Linked DNA regions of Homo sapiens. The protein of the gene in region 4 interacts with the protein of the main gene of each other region in a pairwise test. Each region holds a gene or a part of one and is shown on either strand. Other genes may lie near its edges.

Region 1 (7,964 bases), about 48 Mb from region 4:
CTGGGAGGCGGAGCTTGCAGTGAGCCGAGATTGCGCCACTGCACTCCGTCATGGGCGACACAGCGAGACTCTGTCTCAAAAAACAAAACAAAACCCTGCTGGTTTGACACAGTTGAACTCCCATTCCATAAAACCCTACTTCTGTATCTTCCAAGATTCCACATCCTCTCTTAATTTGAACCTATGTCATGAGAGGTTTCCTCCTAAAATGTCATTGCTTTCTAGGGTTCCTTCCTTAACCCACTGCTTTCATCAGTGGTGCTCAAACATTAATGTGTGTCATAATCATCCAGGGGACATGTGAAAAATACAGAAACTTAGGCCCCTATTCTATTTAAATGAACCATCTGGGCCTTTGAACTTGTAACCGAAGGCAGGTCTGGCCGCTTGCTGCTTGCAGAATCCAATAACAAGAGCGAGCTATGATAGAAAGAAAGTGACATTATTCTTTACCAAAACTTGCAGTGGGGAAGTGGCTGGATTCACATCCAAGGTAACCACTTCAAATTTTAGGCTGAGGAGAAGGGCTTAAAAAAGGGAACTTGGAATGGGAGGCATGTGAGAGGGGTACTGAGTACAAGGTCTACGTGTCTTGTTCCAGTGGCTATCTTGAGCTGTGGTCCACTTAGAGTGTGGGCTGGCATCATCTCAACAATGGCCAGGTTATTTTCTAACTGCCTTGAATTTCTGGAATTTTGCAGCTGGGTCCCTATGCTTGGTCTGTTTCAAGATTAGCCCCTGGAATTTCTAAGTAATCACATAATTAGATACCAGCATATAGTTAGATAAAAATGTGCATGGTGTAAGGAAGTGTATGGTAAGAAAGGGAGGGACGTGGTGTTTCAAAGAAAGTAAATTTCAAGGCTGTACTTTAAGACTAAGGAGAAGAAAACAATGATATATGCAGTAAGCTTCAAGGTTATATCTTGAGACTAGGGAAAAAACAGAAAAAAGAAAAAAGGTTTTAAAATGCATTTTCAGGCTAGGCTGTTTGGTTACAAATTCTCTGTTGGCTCATTGTGATCCCATCTGGTCTTACATCTTTATCCACCCATATCACTACCTCTGCCCTGCACTTTCCCCTGGGCTTCAGATGACATGTCCAACTAGATGTATTTCCATGCAGACACCAAAAACTCATTATTGCTTGTCCGCCTCTCCCCCTGAAACCTCACCACCTACTCAGTTACCCCAGGCAAAACCCAGTATAATTTTAGCCTTCCTCCTCTGATTCACCAAATAATTAGAGTTACAATTCTCATAATGGTTCACATTTATTGAGTGTGATGTAGAACAAGTGTACTCTCATATGCTGCTACTAAACAGGAAATTGGTACAAGCACACTGAAAAACTGCATTTTACACGGAGACTTCAGAGACATATTGTTAAATGCAGCGTAAGGACCTTGTTTAGGTCATGATTAGAATAAACCACCTGTAAAAAGACATTTTTGAGACAATCAGGGAAAATGGATTATGGCTGGGTATTAAAGGATATTAAGAATTGTTATTAGCTGGGCATGGTGGCTCATGCCTGTAATCCCAGCACTTTGGGAGGCTGAGGCAGAGGATCTCTTGAGCCCAGGAGTTCAAGACCAGCCTGGGCAACATAGCAAGGCCCCATCTCTAAAACATTAAAAAAGAAAAAATTATTAATAGTAATAAAGTTGTGTTATCTTTTTGCTTATACCACCTGGTCTGGTGGCAGTTATTGACTGAGGCGAAATGTATGATATCCAATGACTCAGCAAATTCACTCTTAAGTATGTTTAAGAAAGATAAGAGCTTATGTTCACCAGACGTGTGAAAATGTTTATTGCAGTTATTCATAAATAATCTTCAAGGTTATTCATAAGAGCCAAAAAGTAAAAAAAAAACTAAATGTCCATCACAGTAGATTTTTTTGGGTAAAAAAATGTGGTTTATTTAACAATGAACCATTAAACAATGATAAAAATGAATGAACTATAGTTATATCCAATAGATGAATCTCAAAGATATTATGTTAGATTAAAGAAATGAGCTGCATGGTTCTATTACAATATGATTCCATTTATATAAAGTTTAAAAACAGGTAAAGCTAAGGTGATGGAGGTCAGAATAGTGATTATTTTGGGGAGGCTATCAACTAGGAAGGGGTATAACAGAGAGGTTTTTGGGGTGCTGGGGACATTCTATATCTTGATCAGGTTGAAGTTACATATATAAATATTCATCAAGTTTTACACTTAAGATTTGTACTCTTTACTGAACTTAAATTATACCTTATCTGGGCACAGTGGCACATGCCTATATACCCAGCTATTTGAGAGGCTGATTGGGGAGAATCACTTGAGCTCAGAAGTGCAAATCCAGCCTGGGCAACATGGAGAGACCCCTACTCTAAAGAAAAAAAAAACTAAATAAAAATGAAACAATCAATTAATTAGAAATGTAGCGAATGTTTACAATAAGTTAGATATGAAAATAAATGATTTTCACATGTTGTTTAATCCTCTCAACAGCCTACAAAGTAGGTATTAATATTGTACCCATTTTATAGGTGAGAAAATTGAAGGCACAGAGAATCTAGGTAACTTGCCCCAAATCACAGTTAATAAATGGAGGCTTGGAAACATTAGTTTGGCTTAACATATTTCAACTTCTTCACTATGAGACACAGAACTACGTATCTGAGGCAGTGATAGAGTGCTTATGTGTGTATACTGAGGCCAAACTATCATGGTTTGAATTCTGGCTCTGCCACATAAGAGCTGTGCATGACTTTGAGCACGTTATTTAATCTTTCTGTGTTCAGTTTCCTCATCTGTAAAATGGGACTCGTGTCATCTTATATGGTTCTTTGGCCCTTATTTCAGAATTTGATGATTTTTCCTCTTACAGTTACTGTTGCTCTTCTCTCTCTCTCTTCCTGAAGGGACTGAGGTCAGAAAGCTTGTGTCCACGGTGTGAGAGCATAGAAAGGCGTATTGGGACTTGGAATACCACTTAGTATATTGTTCTGGAAAGCCAGTTTGACATGGTGGAAATAATCTAGGGTTTAAATCTTAACTCTGATACCTATTATATGCTGTGGCCTTACTGAAACTCTTTGAGTCTTGGTTTTCTCTTACTCATGATTCATTCTGCGTTGAGTGCTTGTATTATCTGTCCCACTCTCCCTTATAGTAAGGGAGTATAATCATATATGTCCAACTCTTTATTCATCAAAAAATGATTATTGATCATGAACTGTGTTATAAACACTATTCTAGAAACTCAGGATACAGTCATGGACAAGATAGAAAAGCCTCTTTCTTGAGGAGTTTACACTCTGCAGAAAGCCTGAGGGTTGCTCTTGAAGACCTGGATCATGGTCCCATTTGTCTGGACTTGTGTTGCTGAAGTCCCAACTGAACAGCAAGTCCAACTAGTCATCCTGGAAGTCCTCAGCTCATGATGAGCTAGCTATTTTAGCACTCTGATCTTCTAAGAACCAACCCTGAACTGCCACCAGGCTTTGCTTATACTATCTAGTCTGGTAGTAAAAAGTGTACAGATGCCCAAACCCACTGAGGTTTATAACCATTTTCAAAGGTTTTAATAAAAAGATTGAATACTGGATTAACTCCAGAGCCTATTCAGGCTCAATTCCTAAGCTATTAATAATCGCTAATATCTAGTGAGTGTAATAATTACTAATATCTAGTGAGTGTTTAGTATGTGCTAGACATTGTACTGATTTACATGTACTAACATCTAATCCTCACAACAATCCGGGGAATAAATACTATTATTATCCTAGTTTTAGAAATAAATGTGACACTTACAGGTTAAGTAATGCACCAAAGGTCACAGAGTGGTCCTTTGGCCTTTGAAACAAAGCATCCTGATGCCAGGCTGTGCTCCTTACCACTATGTCATACTGTTGTAAAGGAGATGGGACTAAGAAGCTCTAAGTCCCCAGTTTGTTTTGTAATTCTGTGACAGTGATCACAAACGTTTTGACAGTCCAGCAAAATCCTGGCCAGAGTTCTCTTTTGTGGACCCAGAAAGCCACAGGCACTAACACTTTAGAGCTATCTCTCTTAGCCCATATGCCCTGCGCTTTTGGCATTTTCTTTATCATTTAGAGGGGAAGGAGGGCAAGGGTCTGAGGAGCCTTGAATGGTGACTTGGACTCCAGGGGTAGTGGCAAACCATTGGAGGTTACAGTGCATGGAATTAAAGACAGCTTGAATGGTATAATCTGACTGGCTCATTTTACAGAAGACAAAAGCTGCTCAGAGACACAAGGGTCTTCCTCAATGGCCCGTGAGTGGCAGAGCTTGTGAAAGGAAGTTGATTCACTGCGAGTGAACCAGAACTCAGAAAGACCAGTAAGCAACCAGGAAACACCGGCCACCATCTAGGCCTGTGGTGATGGCGGTTTTATCACGAATTCCTTCCTGACAATCAACTGCTCCCGGGCAGAAGCGATCGCTTTCTTGACCCACCCAAATGGACAATGACCCAGGCGTGAGGTTCCTGAGGAGAGAAAAAAGTGTGTACAAGGAAAGGAAGAGGATGTCTCCCAATCGGAAACACCGAGATGCGGAAAAGTTGCACCGTAGAAAGAGCAGCCGTGCTCATGACGCACTTCTGGCCTCCAAGCGCCCCACAAGCGTGACGCACTTCCGGCCTCCTAACCGTTCTCGCTAGCGGTGCGCTTCTGGCCTGTTTTGAGTCCGCGCTCAAAGGTGCCAAAGTGCAAGGACCCACAGTTGGGCGGAGCTTGGGTTGGGAGTGAGACAGCATAGCAGTCCAGGCTGGTCCTTTGAGCGCAGCTCAAAGAAGGGGACGGGGAGGGCGTCACTATACAATTGTGGCCGGGTGGGACCTGGGCTGTTTGCTCTTGGAGGCTGTACAGCTGCAAGCTTTGCCGCTCACGAACTGGAGCTGGAGAAAGAGCCCCCCAAGGATGGGAGGATGACAGAAGTGTCTGCAGATGGCACTGCCTGGGCACCAGGAGAGGCAAGGACTCCAGCTGATTCCTACCTCCTAGGGAAGCCATCCCCACTCTTAGTTGGGGCCGGCTTAAGTCTTTAACCAAGGCTCTTGCAGTTGCAGTGTCTGTTTCTTTTGAAGAGGCAGATTTGGAGACCTGTGTCCAAACAAATGCCATTGTCCCATAGTGTTTTTATGTTTTTGTTAGTTTGTTTTGGTTTTTTTGAGACGAAGTCTCGCTCTTGTCACCCAGGCTGGAGTGCAATGGCACCATCTCTACTCACTGCAACCTCCGCCTCCCGAGTTCAAGTGATTCTCCTGCCTCAGCCTCCCGAGTAGCTGGGATTACAGGTGCCTGCCACCACACCCGGCTAATTTTTGTATTTTTAGTAGAGACGGGGTTTCACCATGTTGGTCAGACGGGTCTCAAACTCCTGACCTCAGGCGATCCGCCTGTCTCGGCCTCCCAAAGTGCTGGGATTACAGGCGTGAGCCACTGTGACCAGTCTGAACTCACTTTTAATTTTAGGAGCTTGTTTTGTAGATTCTTTGGGACTTCTTATACAGATAATCATGTTGCCTGCAGATAGTAACAGTTTTGTTCTGAGTTTCGAATCTGTGTGTCTTTCATTTCATTTCTTTTTCTTTTTCTTTTTTTTTTTTTTTTGAGATAGTCTCGTTCTGTCACCCAGGCTGGAGTGCAGTGGCATATTCTCAGCTTACTGCATCCTCCACCTCCCGGGTTCAAGCAATTCTCATGTCTCAGCCTCCTGAGTAGCTGGGATTACAGGCACACACCACCACACCTGGCTCATTTTTATATTTTTAGTAGAGATGCGATTTCTCCATGTTGGCCAGGCTGGTCTTGAACTCCTGGCCTCAAGCAATCCATCCACCTTGGCCTCCCAAAGTGCTGGGATTACAGGTGTGAGCCACTGTGTCTGACCTATGTGCCTTTTATTTCTTTTTCTGGCCTTGCTCTTGCTAAGACTCCCAATATGATGTTAAATAGTAGTGGTAAGAGCAGACATACCTGCCATGTTCCCAATCTTGGAGGGAAAGACATTCTGTCTTTCATCATTAAGTATGTTTGCAGCTGCAAGGAGAGAATAATATTGAATTATATGTCAGTATAGATACTGCAGCACAATATTTAGCTTAACTACATATTTTTTTGCAGCCAAGGCAAAAATGACTTTGTGCATGAAACTTAAGTTCCACCACAGCCTCAGCCTATTTGTGGCTGGGATTTTCAGACATATGGGAGAGAAGTTAGTATTTTCAAGTCAGGATTAAGTAACAGTAAATATGCCATGATCATACACCATACTCTGGGTATCATGATCTGATATTACTTATAGCTTCAGTTAAAGATACTGTAGGAGTTAGAGGGAGAGCTGGATAGTTAGGCTGTGAGGTGACCAGAAAGAAAGGTGGTTCCCATTGGAATCTAAGGAATGGTCAAAGCTTGAAAGTAATTATGTTTGATGGTAGAGATTGTGACAGACATGAGTATGAGTATTGTATTAGTCCGTTGTCACAGTGCTATACAGATATACCTGAGACTGGGTAATTTATGGAGAAAAGAGGTTTAATTGGCTAACAGTTCCACAGGCTGTACAGGAGGCATGGCTGGGGAGGCCTCAGGATACTTACAATCATGGTGGAAAGCAAAGGGGAAGCAGGCACAATCTTCACATGGCCAGCAGGAGAGAGACAGCAAAGGAGGAAGCGCAACACACTTCGAAACAACCAGATCACATGAGAACTCACTATCACGAGAACAGCAAGGGGGAAATCCGCCCCCATGATCCAATCACCTTCCACCATGTTCCTCCCCCAACACTGAAGATCATAATTCAACATGAGATTTGCCTGGGGACACAGAGCCAAAACATATCAAGTATACATTTCCTTAGAGGTGATACATTGGCTGGGAAGACAGGTCAGTGTGAATTAGCTATTATTATTAATGATCTTGAAAACTCTCTGGGAGACTTTCCAGACAAATGAGAGTGGAAATTTTCTTCCTTTCCACTCCCTGCAAAACAAAAATAAGTTATTCCCAACTCTTTTTGTTTTTAATTTTAGTGTTCCCATCTTCTGGCCAAGAATATACTCAACTCTTCACCAAGTAAACATACGGGTTCCCATGTTTCTAAAAACCGATAAAATTAACAATAGAGACTTGTTTTTGTTTTATATCCAGACTTAATGGTCATTTATGTAATGTAAATATCCAGAATAGGCAAATCTATAAAGAAAGTGGTTGTCTAGAATTGGGGGAAGAAGAGAGGTATGTACATGTGTGTCTATTAATTTTCTATTGCTGCTGTAACAAATTGCCATGAGTAGTGGCGTAAAACAACACTAATTTATCTTAGAGTTTTGGAGGTCAGAAATCCAAAATGGGTCCCACTGGTATAAATTCAGGATTTAGACTAAGGAGAGAATCTGTTTCCTTGCCTTTTTCATCTTCTGGAGGCCACCCACTTTCCTTGACCCTTGGCCCCTTCCTCCATCTTCAAAGCCAGTGAGGTTGGGCCAAGTCCTTCTTGTGCTGTCATTTTTGTGATTCTCTTTCAATTCCCTCTTTCACGTTCAAGAACTCTTATGATTACACTGGGCCCACCTGAATAATCCAAGATAATCATCTTTTTTTTTTTGACAGGGTCTCGCTTTGTTGCCCAGGCTGGAGTGCAGTGGCTCAATCAAGGCTCACTGCAGCCTTGACCTCCCAGGCTCAAGTGATCCTCCCAACTCAGCTAGTAGCTGGGACTACAGGCGTGTGCCCACACCTGGCCAATTTTTGTTCCTTTTTGGAATTTTTTTTTTTTTTTTTTCGGTAGAGACAGGGTTTTGTCATGTTGCCCAGGCTGGTTTGAACTCCCAGGCTCAAGTGATCTGCCCACCTGGGCCTCCCACAGTGCTGGGATTACAGATGTGAGCCACTGTGCCTAGCCCCAAGATAATCTTAAAGTTGGCTGACTAGCAATCTT
Region 2 (8,609 bases), on a different chromosome or scaffold from region 4:
GGCAGGAAGATCACTTAAGCCTGGGAGGCAGAGGCTGCAGTGAGATCAGGCCACTGCACCCCTGCAGGGGGACAGAGCGAGACCCTGTTGCAAGATAAGAATTTTTTAAAACACTTTAAGCTTTTTTTTCAACAATTTTTGTGAGTGTATAGTAGGTGTATATATTTATTTGGGTATATATTTATATATATTTATATATTATTAGGTGTATATATTTATATATTTATATATATAAATATGTATATTTATTATGGAGTACATGAGATGTTTTGATATAGGCATGCAATGTAAATTAAGCACATCATGGAGCATGGGGTATCTATCCCCTCAAGCATTTATCCTTTGACTTATGGGGTATCCATCCCCTCAGGCATTTATCCTTTGAGTTACAAATAATCCAATTACACTCTGAGTTATTTTAAAATGTACAATTATTATTGACCATAGTCACCCTGTTGTACTATCAAATAGGTCTTATTCATTCTATTTTTTTTGTACCCATTAGCCATCCCCACCTCCCACCTACTTTTCCTTAATACTTACAAAAGGTAAAATGCACCTTCTGACATGGCCGAACTGTGCAAAGTGTTCTTTCAGCTGACCTGTGTGGCAGAAGAAAACATTAAAAGTAGTTACTATATTTTGGATTCTCTATCTTAGACTGTAGAAAGACAGGGTCACCAGATTTCTTGTGGACAGGAACTACTTTGCATTTCCTTAAAGGCTTAAGATTTAGGAAGCAGCTATGGTACTGACTATAAAGCCATAATGTACCAGACTTGGTGGTGAGATGGACAGAGAAGTTGTTGAGTTGGCTGCAGTCTCCATCCTCAGCAAATATCGAGTGTTTTCATACCAGTTACTGTGCTATGTGGACTATGATCCCTGTGAGCAGATCACAATGAAGAAAAAGACAAATTACAATCCAGTGTGTTTCCCGGTATACTGAAGATTTCCAAATAAAATCCCAACTTACTGGTCTTTCACAATTTAGTAAAATGTGTTGAGTTGCCCTCACCTACCCTTCCTGCCTTATTTCCCACTGCTAGCCCCTAGTTACTCTCTAGTACAACTAATTGAATTATCTTTATCTGTCCTGCGGGTTACCCTCTTTGCATATGTTGTTCTCTCCCCTCCATATGTTGGTAATCCTATCTCCCCCTGGCTAACTTGTAACACTATAACTATCCTTCAAGACCCAAACCAAGTACATCCACTGAGTATTACTTTATTGGGCTCCTATCACAGTACAAGACAATGTACCAGCCCTGTGAGACTTCAAAGATTTAGAGTATATAATCTTAAAGACTAAAAACTACACGATCTGTTTCTCTTCTGAACTACAGTGCTTGTACTTCACTGATTTACTTTTTATAATATCTATTTAGTTCTCCTAGTTCACCAAAACCTCACTGGTTCAACAATTGCCTATATTTGTTCTAAGTCTCTTCATCCCCACCACTAATTGTAAGCTCCCTCAGCATATAAACCACTATGTTTACAGTGACCAATAAACAGCAGGGCCTCAATATTGGCTAAATGAATAAGTAAAAGTCCACTAATCCTTCCAACAATCCACAGAGACTAAATTTTGAAGGGCTCTAATGGTTAAGTCAAACCAACTGGCAAGATCAAGGTCTCACAGAATATGATACTGGAGAACAAAATAATGTTAAACATATGTTTTATACCAGATAATTAAAGTCCTAGAAGACACTGATTTCAAAACAAACCAGCTCTGGAAGGTAACCCTCTTCCTAAATTGCCTAAAATGGTGAAGGAAAAACAGCTGCAAGCACCAAGAACAATGCCTACCACAGAATAGATACTCAAATAAATATTTGCTGAATCAATGGAACAACAAAGAGAAACTGTTTCGAAGCTGTACATAATGCTGACTCTTTTTAAGGGTTTTAAACTAGCCCTTTATTGTCTGGAAACTTGCATCCGCAAGATGCTAATGAAACTCCTCAGCCTTTCCATAAAGTTTCACAGGGACTACGGGAGACTTTACTGGGCTTGGTCTTCACCAACCACATGTTTAAAACACGGGGCACAAACCAACCTATTTCCCATTCTACTACTCACATCTGAGCCACTAAAAACTTAGAAGAAACTAAATCTTGCTCCATTTTGTTTCCAGGGGTTGACCTGAAACATGAATATCTACAAAAAGAGTGACCACGAATGTTTACATGTTGGTAAGCAAATATAAAAACCTCATCTCAAAACTGCAGCTGACAAAAATTGAAGGTGGTGAAAGATTTCAGAACTAATTATTCCAACCTTTATCTGTAGACTAGGCCTCTCCCGTAAGTTTCAATTTTAGTTACCGTGAAAATAACTATCATTTGCTGAGTACTTACACTGTATCTAACACAAGTCTAAGAAGTTTGCATATAAACTCAATCCTCTCAACAATCCTATGAGTTGGGTATTATTGACTCCATTTTATCGATGAGTAAACTGAGGCCCAGTTGTGAGCCCTTTTCCCATACTAACTTCAGTTATTCAAGTGATAACAACGATTAAATGGCCAAGTTGGAATTCTAACCCCAACGGTCTAGCTTCGGAGTCCACTTCTCAGCCACAATGATATACAACCTTTGTCCAATTGCCTGACGGAAACCTCACAAGTTTCTCAAAGTCAACACATTCAAACTTTACTCATCTTCTCTTGGCCTGCTCCTAACTTCTAAACAAACAATTCACCAATGCTAAAAACCCAGAAATCATTTCTCCCTTTCCTTTATTCCGTACACTTCTCCCACTTAAGCCATCACGAAACGGCATCTAATTTGCTTTTAAAACATTAATGCATCTGACCACCATCCTTCTACCATCGCCCTAATTCAGGTCCTCACGTTTTAAGTAAATTAATGAAATTGCCTTTTAGCTCCTCTGCACGCCTACAATCTTGCCACCTTGAATCCATCCTCCACACTACAGTCAAAATTATCCCTTCTAAATTGTAAATCTTGGTTACCAAGTAATAAATCTTTACACCAAATCACTCCTAAAGGCAAGAGCCGGTGCATTCGTGACCCCAAAAGCTCAAGGGACATCCCTAAACGGTTAACTGCAAACAAAATTTCTTTCTGCTCACTTGCATGCTCAGGAGCAGTCTCCTAATTCAGCCACCACGCTGACTTAAGTACCCTGCAAAAAGCAGAAGCTTTGAGGATCACTTGGACCTAAAAATTCCACTACTCCCACATCTCCATCACTCACTCGACGCCGCAGTCCAAGGAATTCTTCTCACAAAAGCAACCGGCTGATTGATACTTCTACGCAGCGCCGCAGCACCTCTCGCTGCTGAGGCCGCCATCTTCAGACTAAAGCACCTTCTCGAGCCGAGGTCGCGGCCCCGGAAAAAATTTCCGGATCCGGAACACGAGAGAATCTGCTTCCGGATCAGAGGGTATAGGCCGCGAGATGGGGAAGATGGCAGCGGCCGTGGGCTCTGTGGCGACTCTGGCGACTGAGCCCGGGGAGGACGCCTTTCGGAAACTTTTCCGCTTCTACCGTCAGAGCCGGCCCGGGACCGCAGACCTGGAAGGGGTCATCGACTTCTCGGCGGCCCACGCAGCCCGTGGCAAGGGTCCTGGTGCCCAAAAGGTACAGAGAGAGGAGTGGCGCGCGTCTCTCCATCGCTTTGCCCCGCGTCTTGGAGGGACTTACGTGTCTTCTTCGCCTCTTTTCACCTCCAGACCGATTGTTATTGAACGATTCCTGACCTCCTTTGGCTGCAGAGTCGAACTCCCCACTAACCGTCACACTTAGCAATAAAGCGTTGAGATGCCTGTTTCTTTAGGCGGCCATTCCTGGCGGGGGCGCTCAGTCAAAAGAGCCTGGGAATCCGTGTTTATTTCTTACTGTAACTGTCTCCTCACATTTCTGTTTGGGTTTTTGTAAAACCCCATAGAACGTCTTTGTAGACGGTAGGGTAGACTTCTGCAGCTTAAAAAAAACCACTCCCGAGGAATCCCAGAACTGACAGGGATGCGGCGCTGTTTGTTAAGCCACTGTGCGTAAAACTAGTCCCTGTCTTCTCCTCTGGCTCTTTTAGAAGGAGGTCATTGAAGGATTCTGAGAATCCCTCCGTGTTGAAAATAAATGGCAAACAAGTATATATGGAATACAGGCACCGTTCTCTCTCTCAGCTTTTCCCCATGGAGATTAAGAAGGGGAACACAGTCCGGGAGCGGTGGCTCAAGCCTGTAATCCCGCACTTCGGAGGCCGAGGCGGGTGGATCGCTTGAACCCAGGGGTTCGAGACCAGCCTGGGGCATGGCAAGACCCCCGTTTCCGCCAAAAATACAAAAAATTAGCCAGTCTCATAACCTGTTCTCAAGTAAATAGATTTTTTAAAAATTATTTTTTTAAGGGAACATAACAGGCAAGAGGGAAAACGGGGAACCAAAACTGTAGTCCAATTTATATTTTCTTTCTTTACAATCCACTTTAACGTTGAGGATATGCAGTCCCTTAATTTGCTCTTGGTGTTGTCCACAGATGTCTAGATGAGGCATTCTTTCCAAGCTTCCTAACAGCTCTGATAAAATTGGGATGCTACAGTATTAAGTGTTAATGATTGCATACTTGAGCTCAGCTTTTCAGCACCTTCATTTGTTAGGGAAAAAAAGTGGTCTTAGAGTTGTCAAAATACAGAAAGTCCACACCCCAATAATAATATACTTTTTCTCTCCAGAGCGCTTCAGACTCTCATTCAGCTCCTTTTACCTACATTTTACCATAATATGTACATGCTTTTTAGAATGTCAGCCATCAGGGAATGAGCCATTATGTGTCTAGTACAGGACCTAAAACAGTACTAAGTACAGTATGTGTTGAGTACATGAAAGCTTGGGTGTTTAGTTCCTCAGCTCAAAGCAGATTAAAGTAGTAATTAAGAGAAGTTACTATTACAAGCCAGCTGATGAGACTGGTGGGGAAAGTGGTGGTTAACAGTCTGGCAAGGGAGGAAAGAGAAAACCTTTTATAAAAGCTCAGTGGTGTCGTTCAGTTTAGCATATGATAGAATAGGTCCACTAACATCACCTCTGAGAGTGTGTTGAATTATAGTGCAGTATTAAGTATGGCCTATTAAAGAAATCATGACAAAATGCTTAAAAGTGTTTTACCAGTGCCTAGGTACCTGGAAAACTCAGCTGATAGTACTGTCAGAGGGTTTCATATAGCCCTTTTATTATAGAGACTGGTTATACATCAGCAAACTTTTGGTATTTTGTCCAGGAATCTCCACACTTGGAGAAGTTGATAAGATAAAAGATCATTCTCTTTCAAAGAGAATGTTTCATATATATATATATGTGTGTGTGTATATATGTGTGTGTATATATAATATATATACTTTTTTTTACTGAGACAGCGTCTCACTGTGTCACCCAGGCTGAAGTGCAGTGGCGTGATCTTGGCTCACTGCAACCTCCATCTCCTAGGTTCAAATGATTCTTCTGCTTCAGCCTCCCAAGTAGCTGGGACTACAGGCACGCGCCACCATGCCTGGCTAATTTTTGTATTTTTAGTAGAGACGGGGTTTCGCCATGTTGGCCAGTCTGGACCCAAACTCCTGACCTCAGGTGATCTACCTGCCTTGGCTTCCCAAAGTGTTGGAATTACAGGTGTGAGCCACCGCTCGGCCTGTTTCATATATTTTAAGGCAAGGCAGACCCTAGGTTTACTATTCAGGGAAGAATAAAGGTTTTTTCCTTTAATGTTTTGACTTCAATGACTGCATAGTGGGTCTCTTAACCAATGTAATGAGCCATCCATTAGATACTCACATACAAAGAAAACTTCAGCCCCTGAAATACTAAATTCATTTCTAAGTAATTAACAGAAGCAGAAGTTGTAGCGTCAGTTGGACATTTCATCTAGAAGAGGGCAAACAGGATTTTTTAGCTTTTACTTTTAGCAGACAGGATTCCCAGTGTCTCACTGCAACATTTTTTCTGTCTGTTTACAGCACTCTCTTTTCATTCTCTTTTTTTTTTTTTTTTTTTTTCTTAGACGGAGTCTTGCTCTGTTCCTAGGCTGGAGTACAGTGGCACAATCTCAGCTCACTGCAACTTTCACCTCCCAGGTTGAAGCAATTCTGGTGCCCCAGCCTCTCGTAGCTGGGATTTCAGGCGCCCGCCACTACACCCAACTAATTTTTGTATTTTTAGTAGAGACGGGGTTTCACCATGTTGGCCAGGTTGGTCTCGGACTCCTGACCTCGTGATCCGCCTGCCTCAGCCTCCCAAAGTGCTGGGATTACAGGCGTGAGCCACTGCGACCGGCCTTCTCTTTTCATTTTCTCACCCTGTCCAGCTTGGTGTTCCTTATAGCTCTGTTTAAATACCAACTCTATACAAGTGTCTCAAAAGCATTACTGTTAGCCCTAACTGAAGTAAATAGCTTTGTGACTCAAGATATTTCAGTACACCAAGCACCTTTCATGATTCAGCCCCATAAGAAGTTGGAAAGGTATGATGTCATAGGAAAAAGTAGTTTTGAAAGCCAAAATTAGCCTGCTTAAGTTTTCTTATTACCATTTTGCCTTAATTTTGGGTGACTCTACTGTTACTATATAGATGAGAAACTGAGGCTCTAAGACATTAAATGACTCATCTAAAATGCCCAGATCAAGTAAGCAGTACAGCTAAGATTAACCCCAGAGTTAATACTCCTTGCTTTGGCCAGGCACAGTGGCATATACCTCTAATCCCATTGCTTTGGGAGGCCAACACAGGAGGATCACTTGAGTTCAGGAGCTTGAGGCTGCAGTGAACTATGATCATGCCTCTGCACTCGCCTGAGCAATAGAGCAAGGTTCTGTATCTTAAACAAGAATCCTAGCTTTGCCTCATACAAGAAATGTGTTTGGAGGTTTGAGGTTCCCGGGGTTGACCTGCAAAATAGATTTAGTCCTTTAACTTCTGTTTCCTTCCTGCCAGGTGATCAAATCTCAGCTAAATGTGTCTTCTGTCAGTGAGCAGAATGCATATAGAGCAGGTCTTCAGCCCGTCAGCAAGTGGCAAGCCTATGGACTCAAAGGCTATCCTGGTGAGTGTAACTGACCTCAGAGAAGGCAATATCACTCAATCATTTATGTCTTCATGTCTTCAAAGAAGGTACTGTGTGTGAGCAAGTAAATAGACAAAGGATACACATAATAAACAGATAAATGTTTCATTTCCAAACCCATTCTAGACTGTACCTTGTCTAAGACGTCCGTTTTGAAAGGATAGAACAGGAGTCAGCAGTGCCTGCAAATGTGGCTGAAAGTGGCATGACCATTGAAAAAATAAGGACATTGCCTCTGGGCTCCCTGCCACAACTCTGAACATCTGATTTGGCAGAAGTGCTGTGAAGAATAATTTATCATTATCATTGTAATAAATGTCATAATAGTTATGAATAATTCATAATTGTCCCTCTAGTCACATTCTCAAATGGCATAACAACTTAAAACTTGTTGCTATCAAGGCTGAACATATTTAATAAAGAATTACAATTAATGACATCAAAAGTCCTCGCCAGGCGTGGTGGCTCATGCCTGTAATCCCAGAACTTTGAGATGCCAAGGTGGGTGGATCACCTGAGGTCAGGAGGTCAAGACGAGCCTGGCCAACATGGTGAAATCCCGTCTCTACTAAAAATACAAAAATTAGCTGGGCATGGTGGTGCGTGCCTGTAATCCCAGCTACTTGGGAGGCTGAGACAGGAGAATCGCTTGAACCCAGGAGGTGGAGGTTTCAGTGAGCCAAGATCGCGCCATTGCACTCCAGCCTAGGCAATAAGGGGGAAACTCTGTCTCAAAAAAAAAAAAAAAAAAAAAGCTGGACGCAGTAGCTCACGCCTGTAATCCCAACACTTTGGGAGGCCGAGGCGGGCGGATCACGAGGTCAGGAGATTGAGACCATCCTGGCTAACAAGGTGAAACCCCATCTCTACTGAAAATACAAAAACAAAATTAGCCGGGCATGGTGGCGGGCCCCTGTAGTCCCAGCTACTCGGCAGGCTGAGGTGGGAGAATGGCATGATCCCGGGAGGCAGAGCTTGTTGAGCCGAGATTGTGCCACTGCACTCCAGCCTGGGCAATAGAGCAAGACTCCATCTCAAAAAAAAAAAAAAGAAAGTCCTAATAGGGACCAGGCGAGGTGTCTCACACCTATAATCCCAACACTTTAGAAGGCCAAGGTGGGAGGATCATTTGAGCCCAGGAATTTGCGACCAGCCCGGGTAACATAGTAAGACCCTGTCTCTACAAAACAAAATTTTTTTTTCCCAGACAGTCTCACTCTGTCGCCCAGGCTGGAGTACAGTGGCACAATCTCAGCTCACTGCAACCTCCGCCTGCCAGGTTCAAGTGATTCTTCTGCCTCCCGAGTAGCTGAGACTACAGGTATATGCCACCACGCCCAGCTAATTTTTGTATTTTTAGTAGAGACAGGGTTTCATGTTGGCCAAGCTGGTTTCGAACTCCTGACATCAAGTGATCCACCCGCCTCGGTCTCCCAGAGTGCTAGGATTACAGGCGTGAGACACCTCACCTGGCCAAAAAAAATGTTTTTAATTAGCCAAGTGTGGTGGCATGCCTC
Region 3 (7,727 bases), on a different chromosome or scaffold from region 4:
GTCCTTTATTCTGTCTTATCATGAAGGGTCAGGTTAGTAGCAAAACAGGAAAAAGACTAACATCAAAAAAACGTTTGAAGGACCTAATCTTTAAATAGTGAAATGTCGAGAGGCATCTTTGTTTGTGTTAAGGACAAAAAAAAAAAGATGTTTGTCAAAAACGCTTTGAGATAAATGAACATAATTTAAAACTCTTGGCTGCGTGTGGTGGATCATGCCTGTAAACCCAGCACTTTGGGGAGCAGAGGCAGGCAGATCACTTGAGGTCAAGACCATCTTAGCCAACATGGCGAAACCCCGTCTCTACTAAAAATACAAAAATTAGCCAGGCGTGGTGGTGCATGCCTGTAATTCAAGCTACTCAGGAGGCTGAGGCACGAGAATCACTTGAACTTGGGAGGCAGAGATTGCAGTGAGCTGAGACAGCACCACTGCACTCCATCCTGGGTGACGGAGTGAGACTTTGTCTCAAACAAAACAAAACAAAAAAATAAAGTCTTAAAACATATATTTTCTACCATTTTACTCTCTGCCCTGCATTATGCATTGTGATGTGCCTGCTCAGGGTTAATAATGTTTAGCCATGGTTGGTGCAGAAAGACCCAGCCAGCATCTTGTTAGTGTTTTCTAGCTAAATAATGCCTTTAAATGCTGGCTTTTGTATTCTGACCTCTGACTTGAGGGCAGTAGTAGCATCTTAGAATATCAAGAATTTCACTTAGAACATCAAGATTCCTACAGTAATAAGAAAATCCATACCCCTAACAAGTCTATGCCTTCCTTACCCATACATTTTGACTGTTTCATTGTCATGCATAGGTATGTTTATAAAAATAGAGATAGAGGTGTCAGAGTTCTGACTCACCCAACTTCTTTATCTAAACCGTTATGTTTCATGTAAAATGAGCATGCTATTGTTAATTTGCATTTATTTTTTAAAAAACAGTTCTTTAAAAAAATTTTTCTTTCAAATGTTCCCAGTTCTTACTGTATTTAATTAGAAAAGCCTTTATTGTAAACAGAAAATAAAATTGAGTATGAGTGTTTTGAGTTGAGCCTTTCCCTCTTTTCTATTTTTTTTCTTTTACTGTTTGAGCTAATTTGAACAAAATTATGAACCTTACAACCAGGACTTTTCTCTTTTCTTTGCAGTGTGCGAATCTCCAGGGAGTCAAGATGCTCTGTTCTAATGCAGAAGGAGCATCCCTGAAACTGTGTAATTTTGAGGATCCTTCTGGTCTTAAAGCCAATTTAGAAGGTGAGATCCTTTCTGTAAATACCTATTCTACGAAGGAAGCAGACTGTAAAGGAAAAAAGCCCTGGAAAATAATTGTTAAGGGTGAAACAGGATAGCTGTAGGGGATAGGTTTCTTCTGTCATCATATTTGGAGAACTTCCAAAGTGGTAAGAAACCTCCATTTGGTTTCAGTCAAATGCTAATCAAAATTGAGGACTCAGAAAAAATAAAACCTCAAATATTTAATAAGGTTTTAGTTGGAAAATTAAATATCAACATCTTAAACTTTCAAATGGAATAAAATATTCTTACACTGACCAAAAGGAAAAATTTCATTTGCATAAAGCCAGGGAGTTTTTAAAAATCATTTTTAGATTTAATGTATTGTTTCTTAATTTGTTACTATCTGTGACTGATCACTTTGTTTACTTGTATATTTAGGAGACTACTTCACTCCCTTATCATAAACCTGTAGAGGCATATTATGAAAGTGCTAACTATCATAAGACAGAACTAAATTTCTTCCCTCAAAAGTATTGTGAAAGCATTCTTTCATCAGTAAACTGTTTATATATATAAGTTCGTTGAGAGACAAGATTTTAGATTAATTTCCAAAAGTTAAAAGAGGCCTCCATTAAGTCATCTTGCAGTTCTGTTGAAGGTAGATAACTATATTTTTAAGTTAAACTACTCCCAGAATGTGTTCACTGTAGGTGCTAATCTGAAAGGTGTGGATATGGAAGGAAGTCAGATGACAGGAATTAACCTGAGAGTGGCTACCTTAAAAAATGCAAAGTTGAAGAACTGTAACCTCAGAGGAGCAACTCTGGCAGGAACTGATTTAGAGGTGAGTTCACCAACACTTTAAGAATTTTTATTACTCTAGACTTACTAAGCATCTCATGCAAAATTTATTGAAATCAAAACAAAGTAGTTGGCTGGTAAAACTGGATTGGAAGACTCATCTGACATTCAGTCTAAGTTGATTTCATTTCTCTCCTTTTCCTTGAGTTTTTCTCAAGTAAATAAGTTTGATAGATGTGTTATCTAATGTATTGCATTTTCCATAAAATTTAATTCCGAATAGAATTAAATGGGCTAGATTACTTCTTAAACTACTTGAGAAATTTAAATGATATCCAGGTTTGAAATCAGGTTCAGGAAAAGTCTATTTGAAATTGGAACCATATGTTTTTTGGTTTTCAGCTTGAGATTATAATTTTGCCTGGTCATCTTTTTCAAAGAATTATATTTGTATGTCTTCTTAATTTGCCAGTTTAGCTAGCAGACTTGATAGCTGTTGATAGGTCTATATCAGCACTATCCAATAGCACTTTGTGCAGGAGGGACATGTTCTATATCTGTGCTGTTCAGTATAGTAGCTACCACCCATATATAGCTATTGAGCGCTTGAGATTTGGCTAGTGCAAATGAGAAATTGATTTTTAAATTTTATTTAATTTTAATTCATTTAAATTTAAGTAGCCACATGTGGCTGGTAGCTATGAAATCTGGTATAAATTGGATAGCAGAGAACGGTATGTCAAAATTTAGCTTGCTGTTAATGTTTTTTCATAATATTTTTGCCTAGATATCTTGATAGCTCTCGGTAGCAGAGTAGCAGGCCCCTTTCAACTTCAAGGCAAAAAGAATTGGCCTAAGTATAATCCTATCACGAGCACAATTATTTATTGTTTGTTACATTACTTTCACCTAAGATTATATTTTTTTCCTTGGTTTTAGTACTGTGTACTCAGTGTGGCCTAGCAGCAAAAGCCTCCCTCTCTCTGATTGCAAAGACTGATCAGGTTGACTATTGAGGGGAGAGCTGCTGACATTTGTTCTCCTAACAGGTTACGTTTAGTCACCCTTCTCTCTAACCATTGTCCCCTATCATATCCAGGGACTTAAGTGGAATCTCTATCTTATTGCTCCGTGATCTCAAGACAAATTAAGAAATAGCTTCAAATTGCGGTGGTTACACTGTTCTGTACATCTGTCAAACTCACTGTATTATATACGTACCTTTGGGGCTTTAAAAAGAAGGGCAGTTCCTTGCTATAAAAATACTAGGGCTAGGGAATGGAAAAATCTATTACACAATTTGATTAAGTAAAATCTTTTCAGATTAAAAAAAAAGTCTTCCCCCCATCTCATTCCTTTTGTTGTTGTTGTTCTTGGATCATAGTAAAATTGTTTTGATAATATTTATTACTTTGGGGCCAGGCGCAGTGGCTCATGCCTGTAACCCCAGCATTTTGGGAGGCCAAGGTGGGCGAATCACTTGAGGTTAGGAGTTTGAGACCAGCCTGGCCAACATGGTGAAACCCCGTCTCTACTAAAAATAGAAAAAATTAGCCAGGCGTGGTGGTGAGTGCCTGTAACCCCAGCTACTCTGGAAGCTGAGGCAGGAGAATAGCTCGAATCCTGGAGGTGGAGGTTGCAGTGAGCCGAGATTGCACTCCAGCCTGGGCAACAAGAGCAAAACTCCGTTTCAAAAAAAAAATTGTGTGTGTGTGTGTGTGTGTGTGTGTGTGTGTGTATTTATTATGTTGGAATCCATTCTGTATTTTAAATCAGTGGTCCCCAACCTTTTTGGCACCAGGGACTGGTTTTGTGGAAGAAAATATTTTCACAGATCAGAGTCGGGGGCTGGTTTTGGGATGATTCAAGCGCGTTACATTTATTGTGCACTTTATTTCTACTAGTATTACATTGTAATACATAATGAAATAATTATATAACTCACCATAATGTAGAATCAGTGGGAGCCCTGAGTTTGTTTTCTTGCAACTAGACAGTCCCATCTGGGGGTGTTGGAGACAGTGACAGATCATCAGGCATTAGATTCTCATGAGGAGTACCCCACCTAGATCCCTCACATGTGCAGTTCACAATAGGGTTCACGCTCCTGTGCGAATCTAATGCCCCTGCTGATCTGACAGGAGGTGGAGCTCAGGCTGTAACTTGAGCCATACAGGGACTGGCTGTAAATACAGATGAAGCTTCATCTACTGGTGACCTCCTGCTGTGTGGCCTGATTCTTAACAGGCCATGGACCAGTATCAGTCTGTGGCCCAGGGGTTGGGGACCCCTGTTTTCAATGTCTCCTTATAAAATATGCAAGAACAAGGGACATGCTTCCTCTTTAACCTTTGTTTATACATATTTATGGTGATCAGCCTGAACTAGAGGTAACAAATAAAGATAGAAGAACATCTTAATTTAGGGTGGTGTATCATCAGTTTTCCGGAAATTAACTGAGTTTTATTGTATAAGAACATTTTCCTAATCTGCCCCAGAAATCATTTTGAGCAGAAATAGATAAGGCCTGAAATTTCCACATGAATTACATGAATATTGTTTTCATCTTGCAGAATTGTGATCTGTCTGGGTGTGATCTTCAAGAAGCCAACCTGAGAGGGTCCAACGTGAAGGGAGCTATATTTGAAGAGATGCTGACACCACTACACATGTCACAAAGTGTCAGATGAGAATTTTAGGGGCTGGAGGAAGATGTAAAAGATGAAAATGTTTTCCTTATCACTTTTCTTTCTCCACCCACTCAGTTGTCTAGAAGAAATAACACTGTAAGGAAATTTAAAAAAAAAACATTTAGAGGATTATGCTTGTTTTGAGTGGTGCATAAGGGAAAAAACTGACTTTTTTTCCATATTCTGATTTTTAACAGAAAAGCACTCATTTAATAGATGTAGGGAAACTAGATATTGCTGCCTTTTGAATGGGGTAGGGGGGTTTACCTGGTTTTATGACCAGGCATAGTATCTATTATATTTGCTTTTAAATAGGCATGATGTGGAAATACCATCTTGGTTTGAGATGCATTTGAGGATTTTAATTTATGGAAAGCACAACATATGCAATTATATTTATTGAATTCCTAGATGCAGTATGGATATTTAAATTGTTAAAACTTTATGAAAACTTGGAAAAGGTTGTTCAGGTTTATAAATAGCTTTAGTGATGCCTCCCCTCTTTAAATACCTGTCACACCGTATGAATATGGTGAGATCAGACTCCCTAAGACTCTTTTCAGGTTCATTTTTATAATGTTTACTTTTTAGGACAGAACAGTAGCTAAATTAAAGTAATATCCAGTTCTTACTGATTGAGACAGAGTGGAAAGAAAGACATCATTGTACATCACTGTCATTCCAAAGGTACAGTGTAACTCTGGATGGAGGAATAACTTACCTATCACTACAACACTTACAAATGAGAATTTCTCAGAATTTCATTCTAGGCAAGTTCCACTCAACACCAGATCAAGCAATTCTATCTATTTACACTATTAGCCTAGTTTTCTCATACAGTCATCACAAGCATAGGAAGATACTTCAAAACCAAAAAAACCAAGGTGCATCATTAATATTCATTTAATTCAAATACCAAATAGTTTACATAGGGCCAGCTTAGAAATAGATACTAAATCCAGAGCTACTGCAATCAAAGCTTATATGAGTGAATATGGTAGAGTTGCCTGCTAAAAGGCAATGTAATATAATTGCAGCTAGAACCCTACAGTGGGGAATGAGGAATTTTAAACACACATTTGATTACAGCCACCAAAAAAATAGACGTAAAAATAAAGGCATTTGGCTGGTCCAAGATGTAATTATCAATCAGTCAGCACCTGTGATTCTTTTACTTATTTTTTTGTGGTTTTTTTTTTTTAAACAAATTTTAGCCCAATTTTCTTGAGTCATTCTCTCTCTGCAGCAGCAGAGGAAGGGCCTGTACCTCCCTACCAATGACTTGGTGTCCTTATTTTCTACCCCAAGAGCAGGGATATTAGCTGTGTCCAAATGGGTTCTGAATTCTACAGACTCATCAACATGAGGCAAGGAATCATTGAAAACCACCTGTGTCTCCTTTGGGAGAATGACATATCTTTAGTATTTACGTAGCTTATTCTTCTATATCTACATATGCAAAGCTTTCCTTAACAGTAAAGGGTACATATGCATAGTGGGAGGAGATCAGACCTTTACAAGTGAAGGAAAGCAACTTCAGAAATGAATTATTTTCTTTGCTTTATTATTTTTACCAAGACAGAGAAGTATTGTATTGAGAGATAATCTATTTTCATAATCAATATGTGCCTAAATTATATTTAAATCATTTCACTCTGTACTATATTTTCAGGAATTACAGAATGTGGTATTCATTCACTTAAAGGTACCTCTGTAGAAATAACCTAAAACTGCAGAAGGATCTGAAAGATCTAAACATGGTGTGCTTAGAAACTGCAGATTTTAGATCTAATGTATACTGCATTAATAAATGATATAAAGTGTTTGTTGAAAAGGAGTTTCTTCTCTTCCTTTTGAAAATCATCACTTTCTGTATTTTGCTTACATTTCTTCAATATGTGTTGACAACCAGCCCTGTGGTTCTGGGTAGCAAAGGAAATACAGTATAACTTAATTTGTTATGGATTAGTCTTTTTGAAAGTACCATTAAAGTAAATTTATTTCTTTAAACATGATTATTTTTATCATTCTTTTAAAAATACACCATGCTAACAACACAAACCTTATGAATTCTGAACAAAAGAAAAGACTGCCTCCCCAATAATTCGTTTAATTTGTTTGTGTTAAATTCATCACTCTTTAGGTGATGAATATTACCAGTTAGCTTTATTAGACTGGATAAATAGCATGCCCCAAAACATTTTTTGCCTGATAACTAGGATAGAGAATTTTAAGGAGGGAAGAAACCGTTAAAATAGTAAAACTTCCATTAACCCTAGAGATGAAACATGTCTGTACACATAGGTAAAAATACAGCTGTTGGGATGACAGGAAAAAGGTTTTAAATCAAAATTAAACTAGCTGGATTATCTGCATTAATAAAATTTGGTACTCAACTAAGCAATACTATCTATTGTAGTCTAGTTCTTTCAACTATAGTCTCAAGGAAATTCTGGTAGAAAATGTTGTAAATTAATTATTCTTATGAAGGGTTCAATCATAAATCAAGACTTGGAATATTTTCTCCATTTCATTTTATGACTCTTATGTGTACTGTAAATCTGCCCTATGTCAACTTTAAATCATCTTTAATATATGGAAAAAACTTAGAATTGCACTAAGTAAGTCCCCAAGGAAGAATTACCTTTAAAATTAAAAGGTTCATTACTACAAAGAAAAGTGGTTACATTATTTCAGTATAAAGCACCTTATCCAAGGATTAATTCTCTGAAACCCTTTTACAACCTGATTAGACATGTCAGCAGGAGTTAACCTTAAGTGCTTCCTGCTGAGATTTTACATTAGGGCAAGAAAAGATTTTTTTCATCTGTCATTTCAGTGATATTATGAGATCATCGCTGTAATAATTTTGAGGTGTTTTGATGTTGATGAAGCAGTTTTTTCTCTAAAGCCATTCTTTCAAATTTAGAAAAAAATATGACAAATATAAAATCCAATTATTTAAACCCAATTTATTATATTTAACTTTTTGATAA
Region 4 (6,530 bases):
GCAGTGAGCCGAGATAGCGTGATTGCAGTCCAGCCTAGGCAACAAGAGTGAAACTCCATCTCAAAAATAATAATAAATAATAAAAACACAAGTGGGGCCGGGCGTGGTAGCTCACGCCTGTAATCCCAGCACTTTGGGAGGCCGAGGCGAGTGGATCATGAGGTCAGGAAATGAAGAGCAGCCTGGCCAAGATGGTGAAACCCCATCTCTACTAAAAATACACAAATTAGACAGGCGTGGTGGCAGACACCTGTAATCCCAGCCACTCGGGAGGATGAGGCAGAGAATTGCTTGAACCCGGGAGGGAGAGGGTGCAGTGAGCCGAGATCATGCCACTGCACACTGCAGCCTGGATGACAGGGTGAAACTCCATCTAACAACGAAAAAAAATTGAATCTGTTGTGTAGGTAAGGCAGTTTTTTTTTTGATTTGGGTTTTTGAAGAATCATTCCTGGTGATCCTGAGGTCTAAATTAGAGTGATAGGGTGATAGTAAACACTTTGGCCAGGCGCAGTGGCTCACGCCTGTAATCCCAGCACTTTGGGAGGCCAAGGTGGGTGGATCACGAGGTCAGGGGTTCGAGACCAGCCTGACTAACATGGTGAAACCCCGTCTCTACTAAAAATACAAAAATTAGCTGGGCGTGGTGGTGCACGCCTATAATCCCAGCTACTCGGGAGTCTGAGGGGTGAGAATTGCTTGAACCCGGGAGGCCGAGTTTGCAGTGAGCCGAGATCGTGCCATTGCACTCCAGCCTGGGTGACAGAGCAAGACTTTCTCAAAAAACCAAAAAACAGACAACATTAGAGTGAAATCCTTCATTAGCTATGTATATATTGTTCACTTCAAAACAGAGTAAGATAAAGCAAACCATGTACATACTAGCATAGGTTACATATAAAATGTCAGTTATAGCCTCTGTATGTTAAAAAAAATTCGATGTAGTCACAAGGACAGAAAACCAAACACTGTGTGTTCTCGCTCATAGGTGGGAACTGAACAATGAGGTCACTTGGACAGAGGGTGGGGAGCATCATTTACCAGGGCCTGTCAAGGGGTAGGGGGTTTGGGGAGGGACAGCATTAGGAGAAATACCTAATGTAAATGATGAGTTGATGGGTGCAGCAAACCAACATGGCACATGTATACCTATGTAACAAACCTGCACGTTGTGCACATGTACCCTAAAACTTAAAGTATAATAAATTCAATATAGTGATTAAGTGGCATTGTACCACCCTGTTATCTTGGGAAGCAGATGCTTTCATGGACTAAATTTTGTGTTTGGTGCTCCTTTCTTGCAGCTTTCAGTAAATTCTCATTTTATGAAAGACCTGGGCTTAGACAGTTTGGACCAAGTGGAGATTATCATGGCCATGGAAGACGAATTTGGTAAGGCTCAGTCTTCTATCTACACACTGCGATTTTTGATTAAGGTGGATTAAACTGAAAGAAGTGGTGGGCGTCTGAATTGGAATTAGAATTAAATATTAATAGAAACAGTAGCATCCACTGCCCTTCACACACACCTTCCTGCCCACTTACCATCAGGTGAAGTAAGCTTTAGGGATGGTACATTTATTCAGAGAGCACCTTGCACAAGCCCAGCAGAGTGCCCAGTGTGGTGCCAAGAGCCGAATGACCAGAGATGGTTCCAGGGGACTGATTCTTCAGACAGGGTTCTAAGACAAAGGGCAAAAGCCTCCCCGGAACACATGCTGATGACATGTCAGCCCCTCCTGAGCTCGGGTAACGCGAACCAGGTAGAAGTAATGTGTGCCAGGACAAGAGACGCACCCAGAGCCTCTGGCCTTGGTCTCCTATCCTGGCTCACAAGCACACTCCAAGTTTGGGACTGTGTGTTGGGCAGGTGAGACCTTTATAAGGTTCCATGGCTGTTTCTGCGTGAGTTGGCTGAATAGGAAATCAAAGGACTTCTGTGCTGTTCTGCAGAGCAGGGCCTAGTTAAAATTCCTCACAGATGATGCTGACTAGGATGGAATCCCTTTGCCTAGTGCTTAAGAGTACCAGGTCTGGAATTGAGCTTAGTCAGGTATGAGCCTGGACAAGTAACTGTATCTCTCAAAGCCTGTTTCCTCAGCTGTAAAGTGGGGGTGATAATAGTAGGAACCCCAGGATTGGAATTGCTGTGAGAATTAGAGATGATGTGTAAAATGCTCAGCACAGTGTTTGGGCCAAAGTAAGCTAACTACCAAAACCCAGCCATTTATAAAAACCCAACCATCATAAAAAAAAAAATGCATGGGTGACGTGTGTTACAGCACACGAACCTTGAGAACGTGCCGAGTGAAAGAAGCCAGACACAGAAGATGACACGTTATATACCATTTACATGAAATGTCAAGAAGAGGCAAATCCAGAGATAGAAAGTACACGGGTGGTTGCCAGAGCTAGGGAGGATGGGGAGTGACTGCTGACGGGCACTGGGTTTCTTTTTTTTTTTTTTTTTTTAATTGATCATTCTTGGGTGTTTCTCGCAGAGGGGGATTTGGCAGGGTCATAGGACAATAGTGGAGGGAAGGTCAGCAGGTAAACAAGTGAACAAAGGTCTCTGGTTTTCCTAGGCAGAGGACCCTGGGGCCTTCCGCAGTGTTTGTGTCCCTGGGTACTTGAGATTAGGGAGTGGTGATGACTCTTAACAAGCATGCTGCCTTCAAGTATCTGTTTAACAAAGCACATCTTGCACCACCCTTAATCCATTTAACCCTGAGTGGACACAGCACATGTTTCAGAGAGCACCGGGTTGGGGGTAAGGTCATAGATCAACAGCATCCCAAGGCAGAAGAATTTTTCTTAGTACAGAACAAAATGGAGTCTCCTATGTCTACTTCTTTCTACACAGACACAGCAACAATCTGATTTCTCTATCTTTTCCCCACATTTCCCCCTTTTCTATTCGAAACAACCGCCATCGTCATCATGGCCCGTTCTCAATGAGCTGTTGGGTACACCTCCCTGACGGGGCGGCTGCCGGGCGGAGACGCTCCTCACTTCCCAGACGGGGCGGCTGCCGGGCAGAGGGGCTCCTCACTTCTCAGACGGGGCGGCTGCCGGGCGGAGGGGCTCCTCACTTCTCAGACGGGGCGGCTGCCGGGCGGAGGGGCTCCTCACTTCTCAGAGGGGGCAGCCGGGCAGAGACGCTCCTCACCTCCCAGATGGGGTCGCGGCCGGGCAGAGGCGCTCCTCACATCCCAGACGGGGCAGTGGGGCAGAGGCGCTCCCCACATCTCAGACGATGGGTGGCCGGGCAGAGACGCTCCTCACTTCCTAGACGGGATGGTGGCCGGGAAGAGGCGCTCCTCACTTCCCAGACTGGGCAGCCGGGCAGAGGCGCTCCCCACATCTCAGACGATGGGTGGCCGGGCAGAGACGCTCCTCACTTCCTAGACAGGATGGCGGCCGGGAAGGGGCGCTCCTCACTTCCCAGACTGGGCAGCCGGGCAGAGGGGCTCCTCACATCCCAGACGATGGGCGGCCAGGCAGAGGCTGCAATCTCGGCACTTTGGGAGGCCAAGGCAGGCAGCTGGGAGGTGGAGGTTGTAGCTAGCCGAGATCACGCCACTGCACTCCAGCCTGGGCAACATTGTGCACTGAGTGAACGAGACTCCATCTGCAATCCCGGCACCTCGGGAGGCCGAGGCTGGCAGATCACTCGCGGTTAGGAGCTGGAGACCAGCCCAGCCAACACAGCGAAACCCTGTCTCCACCAAAAAAATACGAAAACCAGTCAGGCGTGGCGGCGCGTGCCTGCAATCGCAGGCACTGGGCAGGCCGAGGCAGGAGAATCAGGCAGGGAGGTTGCAGTGAGCAGAGATGGCGGCAGTACAGTCCAGCTTCGGCTCGGCATCAGAGGGAGACCATGGAAAGAGAGGGAGAGGGAGAGGGAGAGGGAGACCGTGGGAAGAGGGAGAGGGAGAGGGAGACCTTGGGGAGAGGGAGAGGGAGAGGGAGACCGTGGGAAGAGGGAGAGGGAGAGGGAGACCGTGGGGAGAGGGAGAGGGAGCTGGGTTTCTTTTACACAATGGTGATGGTTGCACAATGTGAATATACTAAAAACTACCAAATTATATGGTATATACAAGGAGGAATTTTCTATTATGTGAATTCTATCTCAACAAACAAACAAACAAACAAACAAACATACCTCCAAAGCATCGTACCCAACCTGTATGCATACTGTCTAGAAGCTAACTGGCCCACAACCTATATGGGATTCAAGGTTGCTGAAAGTTTTGATATACTTGTAGCTGTTGTAGAAGGGTCAGGTGTGTTCAGTTCTAAAGGATTTTTTTTTTTTAACTCTCTCACATTGTTGTATATTTTTCTTTTAGGGTTTGAAATTCCTGATATAGATGCTGAAAAGTTAATGTGTCCACAAGAAATTGTAGATTACATTGCAGATAAGAAGGATGTATATGAATAAAGTATCAGGTAAATAGACTTAAAAAATGATGTTCACCCATAGATTTGTCTGTGGTTCTTCAATAAAGGAAACTTAAGAAGAAACAGAAAATGGAAATGCTTGACCAAGATTTTTCACTACTTATAAAATGCAAGCCCTTTCCTGTTGTCTGCCACTCAAAGGGGCCCAGCCCTGGTGGTGATCTTTGAGAGGTTGAGAACTGTCATTCCTGGATAGAACTCCCTTGATTGTCAGCTGTCCTCACAAAAGCAGAACATTGTACAAAGTACTGAACAGGGTAACCTGGAAACAGACCTCTGTCTCCCTCAATTACTCAGCCAAGGTAAGCCCAGCCTGCTGGGTAAGACACTGAAGTGACCTGGCTCTTAAGTAGGCAAGAGAGGCCTCATGTATAAGAGGATGGACTTTGGAGTCAGAGACACCCAAGTTTATTCTCAGCTTTGCCACACACTATAAGCCTGGTGGTCTCAGGCAGGCTGCTTAGCTCTGTAAGCCTCAGTTTCCTCATATGTAATATGGTGGTAATGATAGGACCTACCTGGGGCTTTTGTGAAAGCAAAATTGAAGAGAGTATATATATCACTTGATATAATGATGTAAAGAAGCCTCTCAGTAAATAGTAGCTTTTGTTACTTGGGACCTAGAATAATCAAATAAGACTTTTTGAATTAAAACATTGTATTAGTGTTTTTAGTCTTTAGCTTTTAGTGACCCTGCATTTTTTTTTTTTTTTTTTTAAAGATGGAACCTTGCTCTGTTGCCCAGGCTGGAGTGTAGTGGCACAATCTCGGCTCACTGCAACCTCCGCCTCCTGGGTTCAAGCAATTCTCCGGCCTCAGCCTCCTGAGTAACTGGGATTACAGGCGTGCACCTCCACGCCCAGCTAATTTTTATATTTTTAGTAGAGATGGGGTTTCACCATGTTGGCCAGGCTGGTCTCGAACTCCTGACCTCAGGTGATCCGCCCAGCTTGGCCTCCCAAAGTGCTGAGATTACGGGCATGAGCCACTGCACTCAGCCAGAGGCTGCATTTTTAGCACCTGAAAGATGTCACTTATCATTAGTAAGAATACATCAAAAATAACATTGAACTTATTTTGTCTTTTCCAGACCCTTTGGCTTTGCTGAGAGAGGACTCAGATGATAGTGACGAATGTCTGGCAGTGAGGACACATTTTGGCATTCTTGCTGACTCTGACAGAGTGATTCTGATGGACTTGTATTTAAATTGTATGTGTTTTACTCTTTGAAAATAAATCTATAAAACCAACATTTTCCCCCATCTTCAGTTTTTCAATGATGTCTATAAAGTGCTTTTTTATGTTTGTATACTGACATTGCTTAATATTTTTAAAGGTCTGATTTGTCATTTGTATTCATGCATGTCAAAAACAATGGCTTCCCCAGCCATGTACTTGAAGTAAGGCTGTCTCCCCACCTTCGTATCAGGAGTGAATATATTCATGGAAATGGACTTTTTGCTTCAAAAAAAACTTTGTTTTGGTTTCCATTAGCTTATTATCAGATGTGTCAGCTGATATCAGCAGGTGGGACTAGTTTTTCATCACTGTCCTAAAGATCCCTTTTAATACAGTTTAACAGTTTTGGAGAATGGGAGGCTCTCTTTCCTCCTGGAAGGTCAGTTTGACATTGCCACACATCAAACCACAGTTTGATTTGTCACACATCATTATTGGTTCTGCCCCTTTTACTCTTAGCACTGTGTTGGTTCCTTGGGGTTGATGTAAATAACATGTATGCATTGCTTAGCTCTTGAAGAGTTTAGTTTGAGAGTTACATCAAAATAATTCCTCTCCTTTTACTGACTTTCTAGTATGGGGAAGGAAGAGGAACCAAAGGCCTACAGTAAGTAGTGTCTTTGAGGCAGAGGGACTAAGGTGAGGGGCCCTCAGCCAGCAGAGAATCTCATGGCTGAGAGATGAGGTGGTCGAAGGATGGGAGTCAGCTCTGGGATTGGGTCCACACTCACATCTGCTTCCCTTCCTGCAGGTACCAATACGCTGGTTCCTTCTGGGTTGCTCTAGAGTTATTCCAGGCATGTTAGGCAGACATAGTCCTTTTTTTT

Evidence for each region.
Region 1: the proteins of NDUFAB1 (region 4) and ZNF19 interact in binary tests that used the Homo sapiens proteins (3 or more experiments, as listed by UniProt).
Region 2: the proteins of NDUFAB1 (region 4) and SLIRP interact in binary tests that used the Homo sapiens proteins (3 or more experiments, as listed by UniProt).
Region 3: the proteins of NDUFAB1 (region 4) and KCTD9 interact in binary tests that used the Homo sapiens proteins (3 or more experiments, as listed by UniProt).

What each region holds. Positions count from the first base shown.
Region 1 is NC_000016.10:71,486,026-71,493,989, reverse strand, and holds the start of ZNF19 (zinc finger protein 19), read left to right. Parts: upstream 1-4,665; 5' UTR 4,666-4,718; intron 4,719-7,964. UniProt on the Homo sapiens protein: May be involved in transcriptional regulation.
Region 2 is NC_000014.9:77,702,831-77,711,439, reverse strand, and holds the start of SLIRP (SRA stem-loop-interacting RNA-binding protein, mitochondrial isoform 1 precursor), read right to left. Parts: upstream 3,338-8,609; 5' UTR 3,329-3,337; coding exon 3,232-3,328; intron 886-3,231; exon of another isoform or gene 775-885; intron 603-774; coding exon 544-602; intron 1-543. Other genes in the region: nucleic acid dioxygenase ALKBH1, read left to right, coding at 3,436-3,618, 6,963-7,071. UniProt on the Homo sapiens protein: RNA-binding protein that acts as a nuclear receptor corepressor. Probably acts by binding the SRA RNA, and repressing the SRA-mediated nuclear receptor coactivation. Binds the STR7 loop of SRA RNA.
Region 3 is NC_000008.11:25,426,861-25,434,587, reverse strand, and holds the end of KCTD9 (BTB/POZ domain-containing protein KCTD9), read left to right. Parts: intron 1-1,152; coding exon 1,153-1,258; intron 1,259-1,934; coding exon of another isoform or gene 1,935-1,950; coding exon 1,951-2,084; intron 2,085-4,614; coding exon 4,615-4,731; 3' UTR 4,732-6,741; downstream 6,742-7,727. UniProt on the Homo sapiens protein: Substrate-specific adapter of a BCR (BTB-CUL3-RBX1) E3 ubiquitin-protein ligase complex, which mediates the ubiquitination of target proteins, leading to their degradation by the proteasome.
Region 4 is NC_000016.10:23,580,198-23,586,727, reverse strand, and holds the end of NDUFAB1 (acyl carrier protein, mitochondrial precursor), read left to right. Parts: intron 1-1,304; coding exon 1,305-1,392; intron 1,393-4,352; coding exon 4,353-4,444; 3' UTR 4,445-4,452; intron 4,453-5,554; 3' UTR 5,555-5,714; downstream 5,715-6,530. UniProt on the Homo sapiens protein: Carrier of the growing fatty acid chain in fatty acid biosynthesis.